Linked DNA regions of Homo sapiens: all the other regions are reported to be linked to region 1. The links are microRNA targets in miRTarBase. Many come from high-throughput screens and were not tested one by one. Region 1 holds a microRNA gene; each other region holds the end of a gene's coding sequence.

Region 1 (7,294 bases):
TTACTCATAATATTTATGCTTTTATATGTTTTCATTATACTATTTAGTGTGTTTTCATTTCAATTTGAAGAAATAACTCTTTTAAACATTTCTTTTACGGCTGGGCTAGTAGTGACAGACTCCCTTTGTTTTTGTTTGTCTAAGGAAGAATTCATCTCCCCTTCATTTTTAAAGGATAATCTTGCCAGATGTAGATTCACGGTAAGTAGTTTTTTTTTTCCAGTTCTTTCAATATATCATCCCATTCTCTTCGGCATGCAAGGTTTCTGATGAGAAAGCCACTGATAGTCTTATGGTGATTCCCTATATGTGATGCATTACTTTTCTCTTGCAGCTTTAAAATTCTTTCAGTGTCCTTTATTTTAGACAATTTGATTAAAATGTACCTTGGTATAGTCTTGAATTGATCCTCTTTGAAAACCTGTAAGCTTCATGAATCTGGATATCCATTTCCCTCTCAAAATTTGAGAAGTTTTCAGCCATTACTTCTTTATTTTATTTTATTATCATTATTATTATTATAATTTTTTGAGAAGTAGTCTTGCTCTGTCACCCAGGCTGGAGTACAGTGGCACAATCTCAGTTCATTGCAACGTCTGCCTCCCAAGTTCAAGTCATTCTCCTGCCTCAGCCTCCCGAGTAGCTGGAATTACAGGCACCTGCCACCACACCTGGCTAATTTTTGTAGTTTAAGTAGAGACAAGGTTTCACCATGTTGGCCAAGCTGGTCTTTAACTCCTGACCTCAGGTGATCCACCTGCCTCGACCTCCCAAAGTGCTGGGATTACAGGCATGAGCCACTGCACCTAACCCATTATTTCTTTAAAAAAGCTTTTTACCTCTTTCTCTTGCTTTTCTTCTTCTAGTACTCTCATTATGCACATATTGGTTTGCTTGATGGTGTCCCATAAGTCCTATAAATTTTCTTCACTCTTTTTCATTCTTTTTTCTCCTCTGACTGGATAATTTCAAATAACCTGTCTTCAAGGGCACAAATTCTTTCTTCTGCTCAATAAAGTCTATTTTTGAAGTTCTCTATTGTGTTTTTAATATCAGTCATTAGGTTTTTTGGTTCCAGAATTTCTTTCTTTTTCTTTTTTTTTTTTTTTTCTTTTTTTGAGTTGGAGTCTCATTCTGTCACCCAGGCTGGAGTGCAGTGGCATGACCTCAGCTCACTGCAACCTCTGCCTCCCAGGTTCAAGTGATTCTCCTGTCTCAGTCTCCTGAGTAGCTGGGATTACAGGTGCACACCACCATGCCCAGCTAATTTTTTGTATTTTAGTAGATATGGGGTTTCACTGTGTTGCCCAGGCTGGTCTCAAACTCCTGAGCTCAGGCAATCCGCCTACCTTGGCCTCCCAAAGTGCTAGGATTACAGGTGTGAGCCACCACTCCCAGCCTGGTTCTTTTTTATAAGTTCTACCTTCCTGTTGAACTTCTTGTATTGTTCATGTATTCTTTCTCTGTTTTCAGATGAAATCAGACATGTTCGAGGTGGTATGGCCGTAGACTCTTTTTCTGTTTTCACTGAGTTGTCCAACTGTGTTCTCCTATTGCATGCTGAACTTCTTTAAAAACAATTATTTCTAATTGTTTGGAAGGCAATTTATAGATATCCATTTCTTTGGGGTTGGTTATTGGAAAATTATTGTGTTCCTTTGGTGGTGTCCTGTTTCTTTGATTTCGTGTGTGCGTATTTCTTGTAGCCTTGGGCTGTTTCTTTGCATATTTCATGGAGGAGTAACTTCTAGAGCATATGAACTGGCTTCATGGAGGAAGACTGTCACCTACAGGTTGGTGCAAGTGATGGCAGCAGTGGCCTGTCTGGAGTAGCCACTGTGAAGATGCCGGCTTCAGCAGGGGAAGCACAACTGGGGCTGCACACTCTGCTGAGCCCACGGGTGCCGGGAACAGGTGGGAGCCCCACCCCCTAACAAGTCAGTGGAGCAGGAGCCACATGCTCCCAGGCACAGCTGCAGCTTCTCAGCTGTAGCCACAGACCCAGGCATCCCTGAGGTCTCAGGGGCCCCGGAAGCCCTTTGTTCCCGTAGGCTTGAAAGTGCCTGCTCCCACTGCCTGGCCTCTCCCTGCTCCTGGCCCCCACTCTGGGGCAGAGCAAAGTTGTGGCAGAGCCCAGGCACTGTTGTGACCCAGCTGGGTACCCAAGCACTCAGGGCAGTGCTGACATGCCAGCCCCCTGCTGTCTCAGGCCATCCAGACTTTGGGAACTGAAGAGCACAAGAGGGAGACCAAGGGGTTGCTCAGGGTGGCTCAGTGTGGGCCTGTAGGCAAACCTCAGCATGAACAGCCTGGGCGGCATGGACAACATGTTGATGGTGACAGGAGGCAGACAGGCTCCTGGGCAGAAAGGGGCAGGTTCCCAGTGAAACGCAACCTTCAAGCCATGGATGGCATGAAGCCTGGGGGCTGGGCTGTCAGCTCCAGGTGGAGTCTGCGGCCTGGAGTGAGAACTTATGGTGCTTTTTCCAGGCCCGCCCATGGCCACCCATGGGCCAATCAGAACACACTTCTTCCTTTCTGAGCCCATAAAAACTATGTTACCTAGCTAGACTCATACAGATGTCAGGACTACCAGCTGCAGGAAGGAGCTACCCACTTCAGGTCTCCTCTACTTGTCAGTATGACCTGCCTGTGGAAAAGAGCTACTCACTCTGGGTCTCCTTTCTGCTGAGAGTTGAACACTTGTTGGGACAACCTGTCTGTGGAAAGGAGCTACCTACTCTGGGTTTCCTCTCCCCTGAGAGCTGGACACTCATCTGGACAACCTGCCTGCAGCTAGGAGCTACCTTCTCTGGGTCTCTTCTCTGCTGAGGGCTGCACTCGTCAGGACTACCTGCCTGCAGAAAGGAGCTATCCACTCCAGGTGTCCTTTCTTCTGAGAGCTGGACACTTGTTGGGATGACCTGCCTGCAGGTAGGAGCTGCCCACTCTGGTCTCCTCTCTGCTGAGGGATGCACTCGTCAGGACTAACTGCCTATGGAAAGGAGCTACCCACTCCAGGTCTCCTCTCCCCAGAGAGCTGGACACTTGTCAGGATGACCTGCCTGTGAAATGGAGCTACCCAATCTGGGGCTCCTCTCTACTGAGGGCTGAACTAGTTGGGATGACCTGCCTGTGGAAAGGAGCTACCAACTCCAGGTCTCCCAAGAGCTGTTCTGTCACTCTTTTGCTCAAGAAAGTTCCTTTCTGCCTTGCTCACCCTCCAGTTTTCTGCATACCTCATTCTTCCTGGACACAGGACAAAAATTCAGGACCTGTTGAATGGTGGGACTGAAAGTGCTATAACACAAACAGAGCTAAAACACCTGCCTCCACCCCACTCGTCACACTGCAGGCAATGAGAAGGAGAGAAGAGCTGCAGCCCTTCAGGGAGCTCAGATGCACAGGCTCCCCCAGCCAGGGCTGTGACACCCTCTTTGGGGCTCTGTGGTTTCTAGTGTCTTGGAGCTTCCAAGTGCCACCATGTTCCCCTTGTCCAGATGTGAGTGCCCAGAGCAGAAGCCACTTATAGTGCATCTGATCCAGCCACAGGCTTGAACAGAGCCAGCACCTGTGGTGGCACCTGGAACTGCCCACCCCACCACAGCAGCCAATGCTTGGCTGTGTGCAGCAGCCAGACCCCATGCTTGCTTACTTGTGCACCCCTCTCCTCTCCATGCCTGGATCATTCTTTGAAGGTGTGGGAGCCAGGCCAGTAGCATGAGCTGAGTGCAGCCTGCCAGGCCGAGTGGGTGGAACAAGCCCAGCAGGCTTGAGCAAAACTCTGGCAAAGGCACCACTGGCCACAGAGGTTTCCAACTGGAAAAGTGACACCTGGAGGATGCCATGACACAAGGATTCTGACTGATGGGTATGCAGCCCTTGGTACAACACTGAATATAAATGGTAAGAGTGAACGTCCTTGTCTTATTCCTGATCTTAGGTGGTACTATGGTTTGAATATGATTTGTTTGGCCCTGCCAAGTCTCATGTTGAAATCTGATCCCCAGTGTTAAAGATGGGGCCTGGTAGGAGTGTTTGGGTTGTGGGGGTGGATCCTTCATGAATAGCTCTGTACCATTCTCACGAGAGTGAGTTCTTACTTTTAGTTCCCACAAGAACTGGTTGTTGAAAAAAGCCTGGTACCTCCTCTAGTCTCTCTCTTGCTTCCTCTCTCACCATATGATATGCATATACCAGCTCCTCTTCACTTTCTGCCATAAGTGGAATCAGCCTGGAGCCTTCACTAGAAGCAGATGCCAATGCCATGATTCTTGTGCAGCCTGCAGAACCGTGAGACAAATGAACCTCTTTTCTTCATGAATTACCCAGCCTCAGGTATGCCTTTATATTAATAGTAACACAGACTAAGATGGGATAATTTTTTCAAGCCTTTCACCACAAAGTGACATTAGCAGTGTGTTTTCATAGATGCCCTTTATCAGGCTGAGGAAGTTTCCTTCTATTCCAGGTTTCTTGTTTGTTTTTTTAATCATTAAAGTGTGTTGAATTTTCTCAAGTGCTTTTTCATATCTATGACATGACTGTTTGGCTTTTGTCCATTATTCTATTAATATGATATATGATAATGTATGCTGAGCCTGTATTCATGGAATAAATTCCACTTTGTCATGGTCCATAAATATTTTTATATGGAGCTGGAATCATTCTGATAGTCTATATTCATAACAATAGTTTATATTCATAAAGTTACTGGAAAGAATTTGGCTGTTAATCTTATCAAGAATACCTCAGAGATGATGAGCTGCTTCTGTCTTTCTGCTTTCAATATACTCTCTGTGCCCTTGGTTTTCCAGTTGGTTATGTTGTGTATAGGTGTGCATCTCTTTGCATTTATACTACAGTATAACCTTGAACAACATGAGGGGTTGGGGTGCCGACCCCACTAGTCAAACATCCACATATACATACCTGTGAGAAGAGGGTAGAAAAAAAATCCACATACAACTTTTGACTTCCCAAAAACTTAACTACCAATAGTCTACTATTGGCCAGAATGTTACTGACAACATAAACAGCTGATTAACACTTTTTTTAATGTTATAAGTATCATATACTGTATTTTTACCATTAAGCCAGCCAGAGAAAAGAAAATAATAAGGAAAATATATTTACTATTCATTAAGTGGGTAATCAGAAAGGAATTCATCCCCTCTGTTTTCACATTGAGTAGGCTAAAGAGGAGAAGGAAAAAGAGGGGTTGGTCTTGCCATCTCAGGGATGGCAGAGGTGAGTAAAAGTTCCATATAAGTGGACCTGAACAGCTCAAACCCATGTTGTTCAAGGGTCAACTATACTTGGAGTCTGTTGAGTTTCTTTGATGTATAGATTAATGTTTTTCATCAAACGCTGGCAGTTTTTGGCCATTATTTTGTCAAGCATATTTTTTGCTCCTTTTTCTCTCTTCCGAGACTACCATTATGCATAGATTGGCATGCTTGATGGTATCCTATAGATCTGCAAGGTTCTCTTCATCTTTGTTAATCTTTTTTTCTTTCTCTTTCTCAGACCAGATTTTCTCAATTGGTTTATCTTCAGGTTCACTGATTCTTTTTCAAATATGCTCTTGAAACCCTCTAGTGAATTTTTTTGTTTCAGTACTTTTTGACTCTAGAATTTCTATTTGGTTGTTTTATTTAAAAAGAAATTATTTAAATGTCTATCTCTTTATTGATATTCTCTCTTAAGTTTTATATCATTTTCATACTTTCCTTTGGTTCTTTATACATAGTTTCCTTTAGTTCTTCAAACATTTAATATCGCTGATTTAACAACTTGGCCTTGTAAGTTTAGCATCAAGGCTTTCTGAGGGACAGTTTCTATTAACTGCTTTTTTTTTCCCAATATATGGGCCCTACTTTGAGTCTCATAATTTCCTGTTGAAAATAGTCATTTTACATAATATAATGTAACAACTATGGAAATCAGACTCTCTCCCATCCCAGGGTTTATTAATATTGCTGGTTGTTTATTTGTTTTGTTTGTTGTTGTTGCTGTTTCTTAGTAACTTTCCTGGACTAATTCTATAAAGTCTCTATCCTTTTTCAAGTGTGGTCACTGAAGTATCTGCTCAGTTTGCTTAGTCATCAGCTAAGAATTGCAGAAATTTCCTCAAATGTCTAGAACAAATAAGTCTCCATAAGTCTCCCAGGCTTTGCTAAGAGTTCCTGTGGGCACATTGTGGCAAACCTTTAACACTCAGGCAGGTAGTTCACATCTCTGCTTTAGCTGTAAATTCCTCCTTGTGCAGACTCAAGGTCAGTCAGAGGTAAGAGCTTAGGGCCTTCTCAAGTCTTTTCTGACCATGCCCATAGCTCAGGCATGTCCACAGTCCTATGTATGTGAGTAGCCTTCAGAATTTCCAGGTAAATGTCAAAGCTTTTCAAAGCCTCCATATGGACATCTCATTCCCCAGATTTCAAGTTCTTCAGTCACATTCTTGTTTGTCCCAAATGTTATTACCACCATAAGCAGCCTAATATTCATACATACATACATACATGTGTGTATATATATGTGTGTGTGTGTGTGTGTGCATGTAAGCCTTGAACAACATGGGTTTGAGCTGTGCAGATCCACTTATACACAGATCTTCTTCCACCTCTGCCATCCCTGCAACAAGACCAACCCCACCTCTTTAGCATACCCAATGTGAGTAGGATAGAGACCTTTCTAACGATACACTTCCACCTAATGAATAGTGAATACTTTTTATCTTCCTTATTATTTTCTTAATAACATTTTCTTTTCTCTAGCTTGCTTAATTACTATACAGTATATAATACATGTAACACAAAATATGTGTTAATTGACTATGTCATCGATAAGGGTTCAGGTCAAAAGCTATTAGTGGTTTTTAGAGTGTCAAATCAGGTCAAAAGCTACTACTGGTTAAGTTTTTAGAGTGTCAAAACTTATATGTGGCCAGGCACAGTGGCTCATGCCTATTATCCCAGCACTTTGGGAGGCTGGGGTGGGCAGATTGCTTGAGTCCAGAAGTTCAAGACCAGCCTGGGCAACATGGCTGGACCCTATCTGTACAAAAAATACAAAAATTAGCCAGGTGTGGTGGTATACGTCTGTGATCCCAGCTACTCGGGAGGCTGACGTAGGAGGATCACTTGAGCCTGGGAGGTCAAGGCTGCAGTGAGCCGTGATCATGCACTGCACTCCAGTTTCCTCAGCGACAGAGCAAGACCCCGTCTCTTAAAAAAAAAAGTTATATGTGGATTTCAACTGCATGGGGTCAGTGTCCCTAATCCCCATAGTGTTC
Region 2 (7,209 bases), not on the chromosome of region 1:
GACACCAGAGGGAGAAGCCTGGCTGGATGCAAAGATGCATCTTGATTGAGTGGCTTTTATGTCTGAGCATTAGATGTCTGTCTACATAATAGGTTTTGCCTGTTTTTTCAACATTTTGAAGACATTAAAAGGCCATTACATCTCAGTAATGACAGTCTGTAAACAAATGCGTTTGTAAGCTTCTTCAGATAGTTTTGCAATGTTTTCTAAATATCGTTGATTTAATTGTAAGCTTCTTTTTAATGGAATTCTTGGTTAAAATGAATTGATGATTATGAATATCCCTAGGAGGAGTTAGCATGGAGTTTGATCATTTTCTTTGTACTCCTTTAGGACAAGGAAACAGGTATCAGCATGATGGTAGCAGAAACCTTATCACCAAGGTGCAGGAGCTGACTTCTTCCAAAGAGTTGTGGTTCCGGGCAGCGGTCATTGCCGTGCCCATTGCTGGAGGGCTGATTTTAGTGTTGCTTATTATGTTGGCCCTGAGGATGCTTCGAAGTGAAAATAAGAGGCTGCAGGATCAGCGGCAACAGATGCTCTCCCGTTTGCACTACAGCTTTCACGGACACCATTCCAAAAAGGGGCAGGTTGCAAAGTTAGACTTGGAATGCATGGTGCCGGTCAGTGGGCACGAGAACTGCTGTCTGACCTGTGATAAAATGAGACAAGCAGACCTCAGCAACGATAAGATCCTCTCGCTTGTTCACTGGGGCATGTACAGTGGGCACGGGAAGCTGGAATTCGTATGACGGAGTCTTATCTGAACTACACTTACTGAACAGCTTGAAGGCCTTTTGAGTTCTGCTGGACAGGAGCACTTTATCTGAAGACAAACTCATTTAATCATCTTTGAGAGACAAAATGACCTCTGCAAACAGAATCTTGGATATTTCTTCTGAAGGATTATTTGCACAGACTTAAATACAGTTAAATGTGTTATTTGCTTTTAAAATTATAAAAAGCAAAGAGAAGACTTTGTACACACTGTCACCAGGGTTATTTGCATCCAAGGGAGCTGGAATTGAGTACCTAAATAAACAAAAATGTGCCCTATGTAAGCTTCTACATCTTGATTTATTGTAAAGATTTAAAAGAAATATATATATTTTGTCTGAAATTTAATAGTGTCTTTCATAAATTTAACTGGGAAACGTGAGACAGTACATGTTAATTATACAAATGGCCATTTGCTGTTAATAATTTGTTCTCAACTCTAGGATGTGGCTTGGTTTTTTTTTTTCTCTTTTCTTTTTTAAACAAGACCAAGATCTTGCTTATTCTTCCATGTGCCTGTGTAATTTTCTTACAGTGTGGAGTTTCTAAATGTATACTGACCATCTTTTAGTGTCTTACCCACATTCTGGCTATAGGATAACTCTGGTTTTAGCTTTCATCTAAGAAGGAGATCTGGAATTTATGTGTACCAGGTCAGATATGATTGATCAATTTCTGGAGTTGACCTAGCAAAGGTCATTTTGATCCAGGTGTTCCGGAATACCTTTTCCAATGTGTATACCTCCACCCAAAAAAGAAAAAAAAACCAACTAAACAACTGTTTTTTTGTTCAAGTCAGTCACTGTCTCCTTTTACTGTTGATTAATTGGCCAGTTTATTTTGTCCTAAGCCAAATTAAGTATTTTGGCTCCCCAATTAGCCAAACCTTACTGTACAACACACTTAATTTTAAACCTTGTGCTTCAACAGTGTGATGCTTTTTTTTTTTTTAATACTTAGAAAGCTTTTCTGTAGTGAACACGATACACCAATTGATTTAAATAACTGCTACTAGGTTTCATCCTCCCAAATGATCCTTTATGTAACCAAATAGAACATTGGCTTTAGCCAGTAACTAATACAGCTAGGAAACAATGTTTCCTCTTATAAGACTTTTTGTCCTGATAACATTGCCCATCCTGAATTTAAACGTATGCTTTATTTGTGTACTTCCCGTGCCCCCAGTGGATCTTTCTTATTTTAAATGTGAGAATATTATGCCATGGAGGGTATCTTCTGAATTCCTTTGTATATGTGAAATTTTTGCTTAAAAGTTAACCCGTAGGCCGGGCGCGGTGGCTCACACCTGTAATCCTAGCACTTTGGGAGGCCGAGGCAGGTGGATCACAAGGTAAGGAGTTCAAGACCAGCCTGGCCAACATAGTGAAACCCTGTCTCTACTAAAAATGCAAAAATTAGCTGGGCGTGGTGGCGTGCATCTGTAGTCCCAGCTACTCGGGAGGCTGAGGCAGGAGAATTGCTTGAACCCAGGAGGCAGAGGTTGTAAGCTGAGATTGTGCCACTGCACTCCAGCCTGGGCAACAGAGGGAGACTCCATCTCAAAAAAAAAAAATTACAGCCTGCATATTCGAGTATGGGGTTTTCTTTTATTAATATTAATAGACCACCTGCCCCAAAAAACTAAGCTGTGGAATAAACACATATTAATAAATGATAGCATTCGTACTGTCCCTTTTAAGATGAGCAGCTCTTGCATGCATGCCTTATATTTTATAAAAGATGTTAAGCTTTATGTATGTCAGTTTTTGAGGAAGCCAAAGAATTGTTGAACCCAACCCTTCAAACCTGTCAAGGGAATTGATCAAAGTTGTCTGTTGGTGAAATTTCCACCCTCACCTCCACCTCTGGCTCTTTGAGTCTCACTCTGTCGCCCGGGCTGGAGTCCGGTGGCGCCATATGTATCACTACAACCTCCACCCCACTCGCCACACACCACACGTGGTGCACACCACCCTGCCCCCTGCCCCGCCGCGGGTTCAAGCGATTCTCCTGCCTCAGCCTCTGAAGCAGCTGGGATTACAGCCACCCACCACCATGCCTGGCTAATTTCTGTATTTTTAGTAGAGACAGGGTTTTCACCATGTTGGCCAGGCTGGTCCCAAACTCCTGACCTCAAGTGATCCTCCTGCCTCAGCCTCCTAAAGTGCTGGGATTAAGGTGTGAGCCACTCTGCCCAACCCCACTCTGGCTCTTGATCACATTATAGTAGATTGTAGTTTAGAGATGAAAGGACTTCTTGCTCCTTGTACATTCTCATTTCATGTACGACATTATGCAAGCTCAGCAATTCTTCAAGTGGCCAGTTTTTATATCTGTTACGTAGTCAGAGTTTCTTTTCTCTGCTTGCCCTGATGAGGGCCGGTTCACCTCATTTTTTCCAAGTACAGGTTAACCAGGAACTCTGCAATTCTTTAGGAAATAAAACAATGAAGGATTTAAAGTCATGTGCTTTGAAACACTTTGAAATCAGTGAACCCCTTCCTCCCAGAGAGGCCTATGTCTGGACTGGTGTTACCACAAACTTCATGGAGGATGCATGCAGCCTCTCCACTTGATCTTGGGCCTTTGTTCTTCCTATTGTATATTCACGAGGCTATTTACAGCTCCCTGTACTGTGGGGAGGTGGCACTGTGCCCATGGCCTCTCAGTTTTCTGGGGCTCCGCTTCTAGCCACATAATAGGCCAGCCCTGCCTCTTTTCCTAAAAAAATCCTCTCTCTTGATATTCATTTAGTTTTTACACGTGTCCTCACCACCAATCTGAAAGTCAGATCCGCCTTCTTATGAAAATACTGCAGGCACCTCAACTTTGGATGTAACTAAGAACTACATATAGATTTTACTTTTGCTTCCCTGTGAGAGTGCAGAAGTTGCCAGGAGCCAGAGATTAAGGACTAAGATAAGGTCCAGGGTCTACCTGATTCAGTGATGTCAGAAGTGGTGGTGACTGGTTTATTTGTTTTTCCGTCTTAGAGATGTTTACTGTTACTCTGAGGTGTCACAAGGCCAGGCTAACCAGGAACAACCCTTGCTTAATATTGTCATAGAACTCCCCCCAAAAGGAATTTTCCTTTCTGAGTGGAAATTTGCCCAAACTAGAGACATGGGACCAAATTTGCCAAGATGATTTTCTATCTACAACTCCTTACATTCTACCACTGTTGAAAAAATTGATCTGTGCATGGTTATGTCTTTTATGTTATTTTTTTTTCCTTTTATTTTGAATGGCTTAGAGGCTTCCTAGAAATTGACTGGTGTGTCTCTAATTTCTGCTGAACTGATTTTATTAAAAACACTACACCGTAGGGGGTTTGACCTTATAAAATACCAAACATGTCTGCTTTAGAAAATCACAAAGCTTTCCTCTGAAGAGCTCATAAATCTGGTTTCAATATGGGTTGATTATAGGCTAAAAGCTTGAAAGCAGTGGCATCTAGTATCATGACTAGGGAACTGGCTCTTTTGGGGCCGGGATAGCTTTTTTTTTCCCTTACAGCCTCTAATTGGTCCTCTTCTCTGCCTCTCAGCTCAAATGTCTTTAAACCTCCACAGCTGTGCGAACTTCGGCAAATTATGTAAGCTCTTTGAATATTCACTTTTGTTGCCTGTGGTTGCCTGTGGAATGGGGGCCGTAGTAACACCTTGTAGGATTATTGTGAAGAGACATTGTAGCTATTTTCATTCATATACACAACATTCTTGCATAAACTGTGCCCACATAATATTCCTTAAAATCTGAGAACTTGTGCCCATTATTTGTACCGTACATTAATATTGCTTTTTAATATTTAAGATCTTTGCATACTTGAGACTTGCCAGTCACCTGCAGACTGGATATGGCATTTTAAATATTCATTTTCAATTTATTATTTTTGGCCTCTCATGCCTATTAAATAGGTTCATTTGTAATTGTTTCCTTCTGGAATAATACAGATGGCTACTGATGAGAATGTTTTAATCATATAAACTTACTTGAGTTTCTAGTATTTGATAGAATGAAGTTCCCTTGGAGTTTCAGCTGCTCCGAATGGTCAAACCATTGAGAAAATCAATGGATTTGATAGGTAGCAGATAATGTGTCCATATTGTTTGCGTGGCTTATGTCTGATTGGTTCATTCTCAACAATTGATTCTCAATGCCACAATCGATTACAGCCTGCCCCACGGGTGCTCCCAACAAAATACAAATACTTCTAGAACTAGTTTTTAGAACTTTGTGAATTTGGAAGTGGAGGAGTGAGTTAAAAATCATTTAATTACCCTGGATGAAATTAATTTAGTTACTCTGTGGGTCACAGTTATAATAGAAAAATTAAATGCTCCAGATACCAACATTTATAATAGAAAAATTAAATGCTCCAGATACCAACATTTATAATAGAAAAATTGACTGCTCCAGATCCCAACTGACTCCCCTTCCCTCTACCCAATTCATCCTGTCAATATGACTCTATCTGCTGCCTCAAAAAAAGCAGATCATTGATTTTTTTGGGGAATTAGAGATCCCATAGAATGACGAAATTCAACTCTCAAATTTTGGCAACTCTTTATTTGGAGTACATTTTACACTCTGAACATGTCCTTGTTAATCTGCTAACACTGCACTGTTTTGCAGCGTGGTGGTGTAATTCATTTGTCTGCCATTCCAGGAATTTGAGGATAGAATCAGGAAGGTGGCAGAGCTGAGATTAACCAGTTGGGGATTTACTTCTTCCAGCAAGGCAGCAATTTTCCAAGGGATGTGCTTTTTTAGAATTTCAGAGTATTTATTGCTAGGGAAGACCTATCAGCCAAACTTCTGCAAACTTTTCCCATTCTTTGAATATGAAAAGGGTAACAGGAAAGGCATTGATAAGCAATCTGGGGAGATAACTTGGGTAAGCAGTGAGATAATATCTCAAGGCATTTGTCATTCCTCAAGACTTTTAGGAAATTCATTCTATCTAGGAGCTAATGGCCCGCTGACCTCTCAGGGGCAATTTCAAATGGTGTTTAGCTCCCTGTATCTTGCAGATTAGATTGATGTTGGACTAAATCTGAATAGAACTCAGGAAAGATCAGCTGAAAACTATGCATGCTGTGTGTGTGTGTGTGTGTGTGTGTGTATGCCATGCTAATTGAATAGACTTCGTAATCCTGGAATAACTTTACATTTAACAATTTTCAAGGCATTGCATAAGTACATTTGGAACTTGCAAGAAGTCAGCAATTTGTTTTTAGACACATGAAGACTAAGTTGTGATGAATTAATAAACTCAGAGGCTGTTGTGTCAATTCACTCTGAAAGATCTCACATTACAAACCTAATGGAACAAAAATTGTTTTAGCAGTTAAAACCAAGAGAAATACAAAAAGCTCTTTATCCCCGGTTTCTTCCCCTTGGAATTTCCCTAGGGAACCGATGAGGACAGTGGAAAAACACCACACTTCTCAAAGCAAGTTTCTTACTTTTTAAGTGTTACAAGTTCACGGTGGAGTGTTTTTTTCCCCCTAAATTTAGTGGATGTGGTTTTGATACCATAGCTTTAATTCACAGTTGCCTTGGTAAATGAGGGCCTTTCTCACCTGGATTTGGGGATTAAACTGTGAACTCCCCGTGGGCAGGAGCTGTGATCAATAACCTTTGTACATTTCCAAAATCCAAAGGAGAGAATTAGATGAAGGACAGATTAAGACCTTTTGTTTTCAGGCACCTGTTTCTGGTTTTTAGTAAATAAATGTTGTCTTTCTCTTTCATTTCTCTATCCTAACTGATTGCTTTACAGATTTATAATTTTTGTCTGGAGAGCCTAAAGGAAAACAAATTGCTAGTGAAGGAAGTTGAGAAAAAATTCCAATGGGCCTGAACATTAACGAAACATTGCTAAGGTCAAATATCTGAGTCTACCTTTTATATTTGGTGCAGGCTCTAAGCTCATTTAAGGACTAATTCTCACCCAGAAGTGTATCACTATTCTCCTTTGAACTAAGAGTTGTACTTTCATTTTAGTATTTAAAGATAATCCAAAATTTCCACCATTGTCTCTCCAAGGAGTTAAGAACAAGCCACTGAGAGTTTTGTTGATCAAAAATGTTGAGAACCTGGAATACGCTACCTGATTTAGTATTTCATCCTCAATGGCTTGACAGGCCCTGCTATACCAGGGCAACTTTGGCAAATTCTCTTTTCTTCTCATGGAAATGAACCTCTGCCCAGAAGCTGTAATAAAAGCAACAAATAGCTCCCTGCCTCTTTCATTCAAGGACACACCAAGTTATAAATTCCCTTCCCTTCACAAACACTTAGCGTCTTCATGAAAAGTTTACCTTTAACTTCAAAATCCAAATAGCTCTTGTGCATCCATTGCAGTTTTATAATTCACACTTTTATATTTTTCTTTTTTTTTTTTTTTTTTTTGAGACGGAGTTTCGC
Region 3 (7,294 bases), not on the chromosome of region 1:
CACTGCACTCCAGCCTGGGTGACAGAGCGAGACTCCGTCTCAAGAGGTTTCTCTTTACCTTAGCTCTATGAGGTGTTCTAAAAGCCAGGTCGATTCTATGGCTGTTCTGTCTAATCATGCTCAGTCTGTTCTCAAGATCTTTCAGACAAAGCATGATCCAGAGCTAGGCAGGATGAAGCCACTTTGATAGGAATACTTTCCAGCCACTCACAGCCATATTCTTGGGTAGGGAAGTGAACTGGAAGTAGTGTTCTTTGTTTTGATTTTTTGCTTCCTGAGCTACTATATACTAAGCTAAGCACTATATGTATATATCACATTTTATTCCTTGTAGCAACTTCCGTGAAGTGAATACTGTATTTTTATCTTCATTTAACTGAAATATCTGAAGCTCAAAGGTTAACTGAATTATCTAAGAACAAGCCAGTATCAAGACCAAACCTTGTGTTCTGCTGTACTTTATGACTTTCCTTTGGATTTTGTGGGGGTTTTTTTGTTTTGTTTTTATATTGCAGAATGGACTTTGAATAGAGATTTCACCTTTTGTTATTGCGGAAGAGGAGAGGGATTGCAGAGGATAGGGTTCTTAATGGTTTTTGTTTTACTTATAGAATGTGCTGACATAGAATTTTGAATTCCACTTTGACACATAGGAGGCAAGGAGAAAGTTTTGTTTTTAACATTTTCTTCAGAAGTAGCCATTCAGTGGTACTGCTGGCATTGGTGAAGCCTGTGGGGGAGCCTGAACTTTGCTCCATTTTACAGGTTTATGTGGAACATAGCACTCTGACCAGGATTTGTAATGGTGACTAAAAACTTCTCATTATATCAGATAAAAACTTCAAATTTCAAATCAAGACTGTTTATTATGACAGTAACTAGTTAATCGATAGACAACAAAGTGAAGTAGAAAATTCATTAGCCCCAAAGCAAAAGTCCTGGGTTCTATGACAGGCTTTGTGGAACCTTGGACAAGTCTCGTAACTTTAGTTCCCTACAAAATGAGGGTGTTGCATTGACCCTCATCCTCTAGTTTCTGAAATACTATTGACTCTGAATATTTCTAATTATTTTTCTTTATTGTAGGATTTTAATATAATTGAGGAAGCTCTTATCCGAAGAGTCTTAGACCGGTCACTTCTTGAATATGTGAATCACTCGAACACCACATAATTTTATTAAAACGAAGGGAAAAGGGACCACTGAATTGCACCATTTAAGATGCTGCTTGAACAAATGGGAGGGAAGTTGTCAATGATTGATGGGCAAAAATGTACAACACAGTTATGTGTTTGTCCATGTTTATTGTTATAGTGCATTTAAAAACTGCTTTAATTTTAATGGTTTAAATCTGTTTTACATCCTTGAGATTCTTACACATCTAACAACAAAAAAAATTATCTACATCAGTCATTGTTACATGGAAAAGACAGGTGGTAGGCAAGTAGGTGGAGGATCTCGGTTTGCAAATTAGATAATACTCTGTGTATAATGCTACATATCAATAACTACCATCATGGTTAGGCACGATAACTAATCTTTGTTCTGTGTAAAAAAATATGGAGAGTGAAACAAAGTGCAGACATTCAAAGAAATAAGAAATCTGCTCCAATGCTCTTGTTCTAATCTCTAATAGGTTAACGTTAATAATCTTGTATGGGAGTTGGAAAGGAAAATTTTGGAAGTCAAGAAAGTCCATTTAGGCCGGACGCGGTGGCTTACGCTTGTAATCCCAGCACTTTGGGAGGCTGAAGCAGGCGGATCACAAGGTCAGGAGTTCGAGACCAGCCTGGCCAACACTGGTCTCTGTGAAACTCCGTCTCTACTAAAAATACAAAAATTAGCTGGACGTGTTGGCGGGCATCTGTAATACCAGCTACTTGGGAGGCTGAGGCAGAAGAATCACTTGAACCCGGGAGGCAGAGGTTACAGTGAGCTGAGATCGCACCAGTACACTCCAGCCTGGGTAACAGAGCTAGACTCCATCTCAAAAAAAAAAAAAAAAAAAATCCATTTAACCAAATTGTCTTACATAATACTGTAACAAAACAAATTTTGTGTTAGAAAAGTATACTTAATTCTTTGACTTTTTATAACTGCATACATAAGAATTCAATATTTTTCAAATATTTATAGCTTATTTAGAAATATTTCTATAATATAAGCAATTTCTTAAAAACCATCAGATGATACTTACAGTATAAGTATTCACATCCAGACTTTTTAGTAGAAAACCCTAAGGGCTTTGATATCTTTTTTGATTGTAACATTTTAAAAATTATGAAATAAAAGTACTGAAAACCAGACACAAAATTTATAGCTGAATGCCTTATTATAAGGAAATACTCTTTTAGGACTCAGCCAGTCACCCCACGTGTCCTTTTTGTGTCCTGTCACAATTACAACCCCACAAAAGTAACTGCTAGACTGATTTAAATGGTAATCACTTTGTTGCATTTGATTACTGCTGCCACACCTAAATGCATATATCTATATTTTAATATTATCAATTTAAAGTTGTTATTAAATGTATATTTTATTTTACATCTCTTTTTTAATCTAGAAGTTCCTCCTTCTTTCCAGTTCCTTAAAATTTACCTGGTGAAGAACCTGATCCTAGGACCTATAGAGTTTCCCATACTTTGTATTTTGCTGATTGCACACTCATGGCACGGTTCAGCACATTGCCCTGTCCTCTCGATATTAGCACACAGTGCAGGTTCAGGCACATTGAATTTGAGAAGACTTAGGTTCAGTCCTTTGGCAAGACTGTAAATCACGGTGTCTTTCTTTCCTTCCTCCTTCTTCTCTCTCTCTCTCTCTCTCTCTTTCCTTTTCTTTCTCTTTTTTTCAGAGTTGCACTCTGTTGCCCAGGCTGGAGTACAGTGGCACGATCTCGACTCACTGCAACCTCCATCTCCCGGGTTCAAGCAGTTCTCCTGTTTCAGCCTCCCAAGTAGCTGGGACTACAGGTGCACGCCACCATGCCCGGCTAATTTTTGTATTTTTAGTAGAGGGGTTTCACCATAATGGTCAGGCTGGTCTTGAACTCCTGAACTCAAGTGATCCACCAGCCTTGGCCTCCCAAAATGCTGGGATTACAGGCATGAGCCACCATGCCCAGCTAATTTTTGTATTTTTAGTAGAGACAGGGTTTCACCATAATAGCCAGGCTGGTCTCAAACTCCTTACCTTGTGATCCGCCCACCTCAGCCTTCCAAAGTGCTGGGATTATAGGCGTGAGCCACTGTGCCCGGCCTACAGGGTTTTTATCTAACCTTTCTGTTACAACTGTACCTCTCCTTCTGTACTGAAAGTCCTGGTTTTCAAGAACACAGGGCACGATAGAATTAGAACATCCCACAATTACTCATTTCTTTTATTTATCTTACACTTACAGCTGTCTCAGAATAACAATAGAAATACAACCACAAATAATATGGCAATTGAAACAATTAAAAAGTTTTCATTTGCTTTTCTCATTCTTTCCCAATTTTTTTTTTTTTTTGAGATGGAGTCTCGCGCTCTTGTTGCCCAGGCTGGAGTGCAATGGCACGATCTCGGCTCACTGCAACCTCTGCCTCCTGGATTCAAGCAATTCTCCTGCCTCAGCTTCCCGAGTAGCTGGGATTATAGGCATGCGCCACCACGCCCTGCTAATTTTGTATTTTTAGTAGAGTCAGGATTTCTCCACATTGGTCAGGCTGGCCTCAAACTCTCGACCTCAGGTGATCCGCCTGCCTCGGCCTCCCAAAGTGCTGGGATTACAGGTGTGAGCCACTGCGCCCGACATCCCAATTTTTAAAATAGTTATACTATGTCAACATTTTCAGAACATACTGGTATAGCATACTGTACTTTCTTCCTTTTATCCCCCATTTATTCTTAGTTCTTCAACTATATATTTAACACTTGCCCCCAGTTTTGTTTTGTTTTGTTTTGAGGAGGAATCTTGCTCTGTTGCCCAGGCTGGAGTGCAGTGGTGTGATCTTGGCTCACTGCAACCTCCGCCTCCCGGGTTCAAGTGATTCTCCTGCCTCAGCCTCTCGAGTAGCTGGGATTACAAGTGGGCACCACCACACCCGGCTAATTGTTGTATTTTTAGTAGAGATGGGTTTTGCCATGTTGGCCAGGCTGGTTTTGAACTCCTGACCTCAAGTGATCCACCTGTGTTGGCCTCCTAAAGTACTGGGATTACAGGTGTGTGCCACCGCGCCAGGCAATTGCCCCCAGTTTTTATTTGATGGCTCTGACTGTTTCTCATATCTGACTCTTTAATTATGAATCCAGGGCATAGATTAGTATCTCCATCTTGTAAGGATGCAAAGAAGCCATGAAAATAAGTAATATCAACTCCTGAGGATAAAACGTTACTTGACTAGAGTTAGCTTTTTAATTGTAATCATTTATAAACTTCTTTGTTCCTTACATATAAGCATAGTCATAACCATGGTACCCAAAATTTTCTATAAGTTATTGTAACTCCTTAAAGGTCTTGCTACAGTTCTTTTATCCAGTACAAATAATTGGGAAAATGTAAAGCTGAATGAAATCTAGTGAGCCTCATATCCTCCCTTTTAGATATTGATTTTAAGTTTGCTTTTCACAGCTGCTAAAAAGTAACAACTGATTTTTAGTTCCACAACCTCTCTTTCTTCAATTTAGATGGATCATACAATAAAGCAAAATCTGGCTGGTTACAGTGGCTCACACCTATAATCCCAGCACTTTGGGAGGCTGAGGTGGAGGGTCTCATGAGCCCAGGAGTTCAAGACCAACCTGGGCAATATAGTGAGACTCTTTCTATTTAAACAAAAACAAAAACAAACAAACAAACAAACAAAAAGCTGGGCATGATGCACACCTTTAGTTTCAGCTACTAAGGAGGCTGAGGTTGGAGGATCACTTGAGCCTAGGAGGTCAACACTGCAGTGAGCTATGATCATGCTACTGCCCTCCAGCCTGGGCAACAGAGCAAGACCCTGTCTCCAAAAACATAAATAATTAAATATAAATAAAAATAAAGCAAAATCTGTTGGGAAACGAGAAAAAGGAGAGGAATTTTTCAGGAATAATCATAAAAAGAAATGATCATCAGACTGAAAGTCCAGAGCCTGAGAAATGAAAACATATTTTTAAGCATTGGTGTTGACCATGCAGACAAACTTTTGTTAATTCAGAGCGATACAAAAGGCACTTTGAATCTATAAAACTTGAAAAAGTTAAAAATTGTATGTCGGATAAAGCTTTAAGTCATCTGTCACTATTAACCTCAGTGCAGCAATTCTGACTCCTGTGCCTGGATTCCTTTTATGATAATTTTGCCACCTACAGGACAGATTAGGTGCTGGTCGCCTGAATTATTTTGTGTTCTGAATTATTTTGAGCTCTAAAATGGTAAAGTACAAATACTCATTGTTTTACTGTGCCTTTGGCCTTTTATAAAAAGGTATTTATAATTCGTTGATAAAAACCAATATTTGAAGCTGTTGATTACCAACAAAAAAGTTTCACTCTCTTTATAGTGCTTCAGGATACAACTTTTTCAGGGCCTTATTAGAGAAAAACTGATTCACATGTTATTCTTCTAAAGCTAAATTATTAAAATGTAGGTTGAAAGATTGGATTGATTGTGAATCTACACTAAAGATATGGTTCCAGGCAGACCTCCTTAGAGACCTCCAGGCAGACCTCCTTACTGTCTTCAGTGATGTTTAATTTCATTACTGTTACTGGGTGCCAAGTGTCTTTCATTTGGAAGTGAACTTACTCCAGTTATTGAATGTTTATCATATCATAATTTGCATTTTTCCAACATTGAAGGTATTTTAAAAAGTCACTAAGAGATTCATTCTTTTATTATTCAACTACAAAAAAATAGTGTAATGATCAGAATTTAAAATGTGTGATTCTTTTTCTTCTGTAAGTATGTATTGCTATGATAAATAAAAAATGGCAGGACCATTGTTTTTATTAAAATATCTACTGTGTCTATTCTTAAACATTAATCTTGATTACTATTTTACTCAAATTTAATAATGCTTTTTAAATTTTCATCATTGAGCAACATCTATCACAAAGGTGTACATTCATTTAGGCCAGTACTTCTCAACTGGGGGTAATTTTGTCTCCCAGCAGACATTGGCAATGTCTAGATACATTTTGGGTTGTCCTAACAGGGCTTGGGTGTGCTAGTGGCCTGAGATCTAGATACAGGTCAGGGATGCTGTTCAGCATTCTACAGTGCACAAGACAGCCCCTTGCAACAAAGAATTATCCTGCGCAAAATGGCAATAGTGCCTAGGCTTAGAAACTCTGATTTGGTCAACATAATACTGAGCACTATGGATTTATTATTTGTTCTGCTAGCAAGAGGCTTCACTGAAATTTAAAAGGTAAGATGTAGATAGATTCTTCCCCCTGCTAAATCCATACTAAGTTTTGAATGGCTGTAGCTGTCATGCGTACCCATATGTCATGAGCATATTAATTTTTTGATTTTTTGCAAGAACACATACAGGACAGAACACAAGTGTTACTGACGAAACCTCTGATGCCTGTTTGCTGAGTGACGTTCTAGATGATTGAGGGAACCCAGATCAGTTGAGAAGATTTACCTTCATCATTTAGATTATCTTTATTGAAATAAGACAAAATATTACAGAGGGACACTCATGTCTGAGATCCTTGAAGCTAATAGTTATGTTTTTGTATTATTACTAGAAAATCGTGTGGTATTTTAATCCTAAAGATTTCAGCAAAGACAATGCATGGATCTTAAGGCTAATCATTGCCACCAAAATAGCCATGTAAGAAGCCCAACGAAGGAGAATCACAGGGAGTAGTATTGATCTAGGTGAACTGGATTATGGTACAATTACAAGTCCCAAATCCCAGTGCTCACCCAAAGTCTACTGTGGTTCCTGGCTCTTCTCCAGGGAAGCTGTTCTCCAGCTTCAGAATTCCAGGGTACTTTCATCTCATGGCATTTGTATATCACTGTGTGTTCCTATATCACCCCTCGCAACAGGCTGCTGAGTTGGCTACACAGGTAATTTCTGTTCATTATTTGCCAATGCAAGTCACATGGCCATATGTAATGTCAAGGCACTGAGGAAATCCAGTCTTCTCATGTAGAAGACAACTGGATACTGAGGCATAATAGTAATACCAACCATGAAGGTACAAGCCAGGCAGAGTTGACAAGACAGGAAGTACACAGGGTAAAGACATTAAAAATATGTGTGGAAAGGAGGGGTGAAAAGTCAAAATGAGACTAGCTTTCTAAAACATG

What was found. Region 1 holds the annotated microRNA hsa-miR-6500-3p (ACACUUGUUGGGAUGACCUGC, at 2,908-2,928, shown strand). A microRNA usually pairs through its seed, bases 2 to 8, with sites in the 3' UTR of a target mRNA and lowers its output. Matches are read on the target gene's strand: a 7mer-m8 pairs with bases 2 to 8, a 7mer-A1 pairs with bases 2 to 7 and ends in A, and an 8mer does both.
Region 2: miRTarBase lists BAMBI as a target of hsa-miR-6500-3p. The part of its 3' UTR that is shown has no 7-base or 8-base seed match.
Region 3: the mRNA of RNF125 is a reported target of hsa-miR-6500-3p. Seed matches in the 3' UTR shown: 7mer-A1 at 3,060-3,066, 7mer-A1 at 4,022-4,028, 7mer-m8 at 4,063-4,069 and 7mer-A1 at 4,156-4,162.

Annotation. Positions count from the first base shown.
Region 1 is chr1:51,057,165-51,064,458 of GRCh38, forward strand. MIR6500 (microRNA 6500) reads left to right here and starts at 2,854; the gene lies at 2,854-2,939. MIR4421 (microRNA 4421) reads left to right here and starts at 2,673; the gene lies at 2,673-2,741.
Region 2 is chr10:28,681,650-28,688,858 of GRCh38, forward strand. BAMBI (BMP and activin membrane bound inhibitor) reads left to right here. Exons shown (of 3, transcript NM_012342.3): 3 at 334-1,283. The coding sequence ends at 752. Among named protein-coding and RNA genes, the nearest start is that of BAMBI, 7.7 kb to the left of the region's middle. RefSeq lists an enhancer at 2,226-3,134.
Region 3 is chr18:32,067,212-32,074,505 of GRCh38, forward strand. RNF125 (ring finger protein 125) reads left to right here. Exons shown (of 6, transcript NM_017831.4): 6 at 1,087-6,008. The coding sequence ends at 1,173. Among named protein-coding and RNA genes, the nearest start is that of RNF138, 21 kb to the right of the region's middle.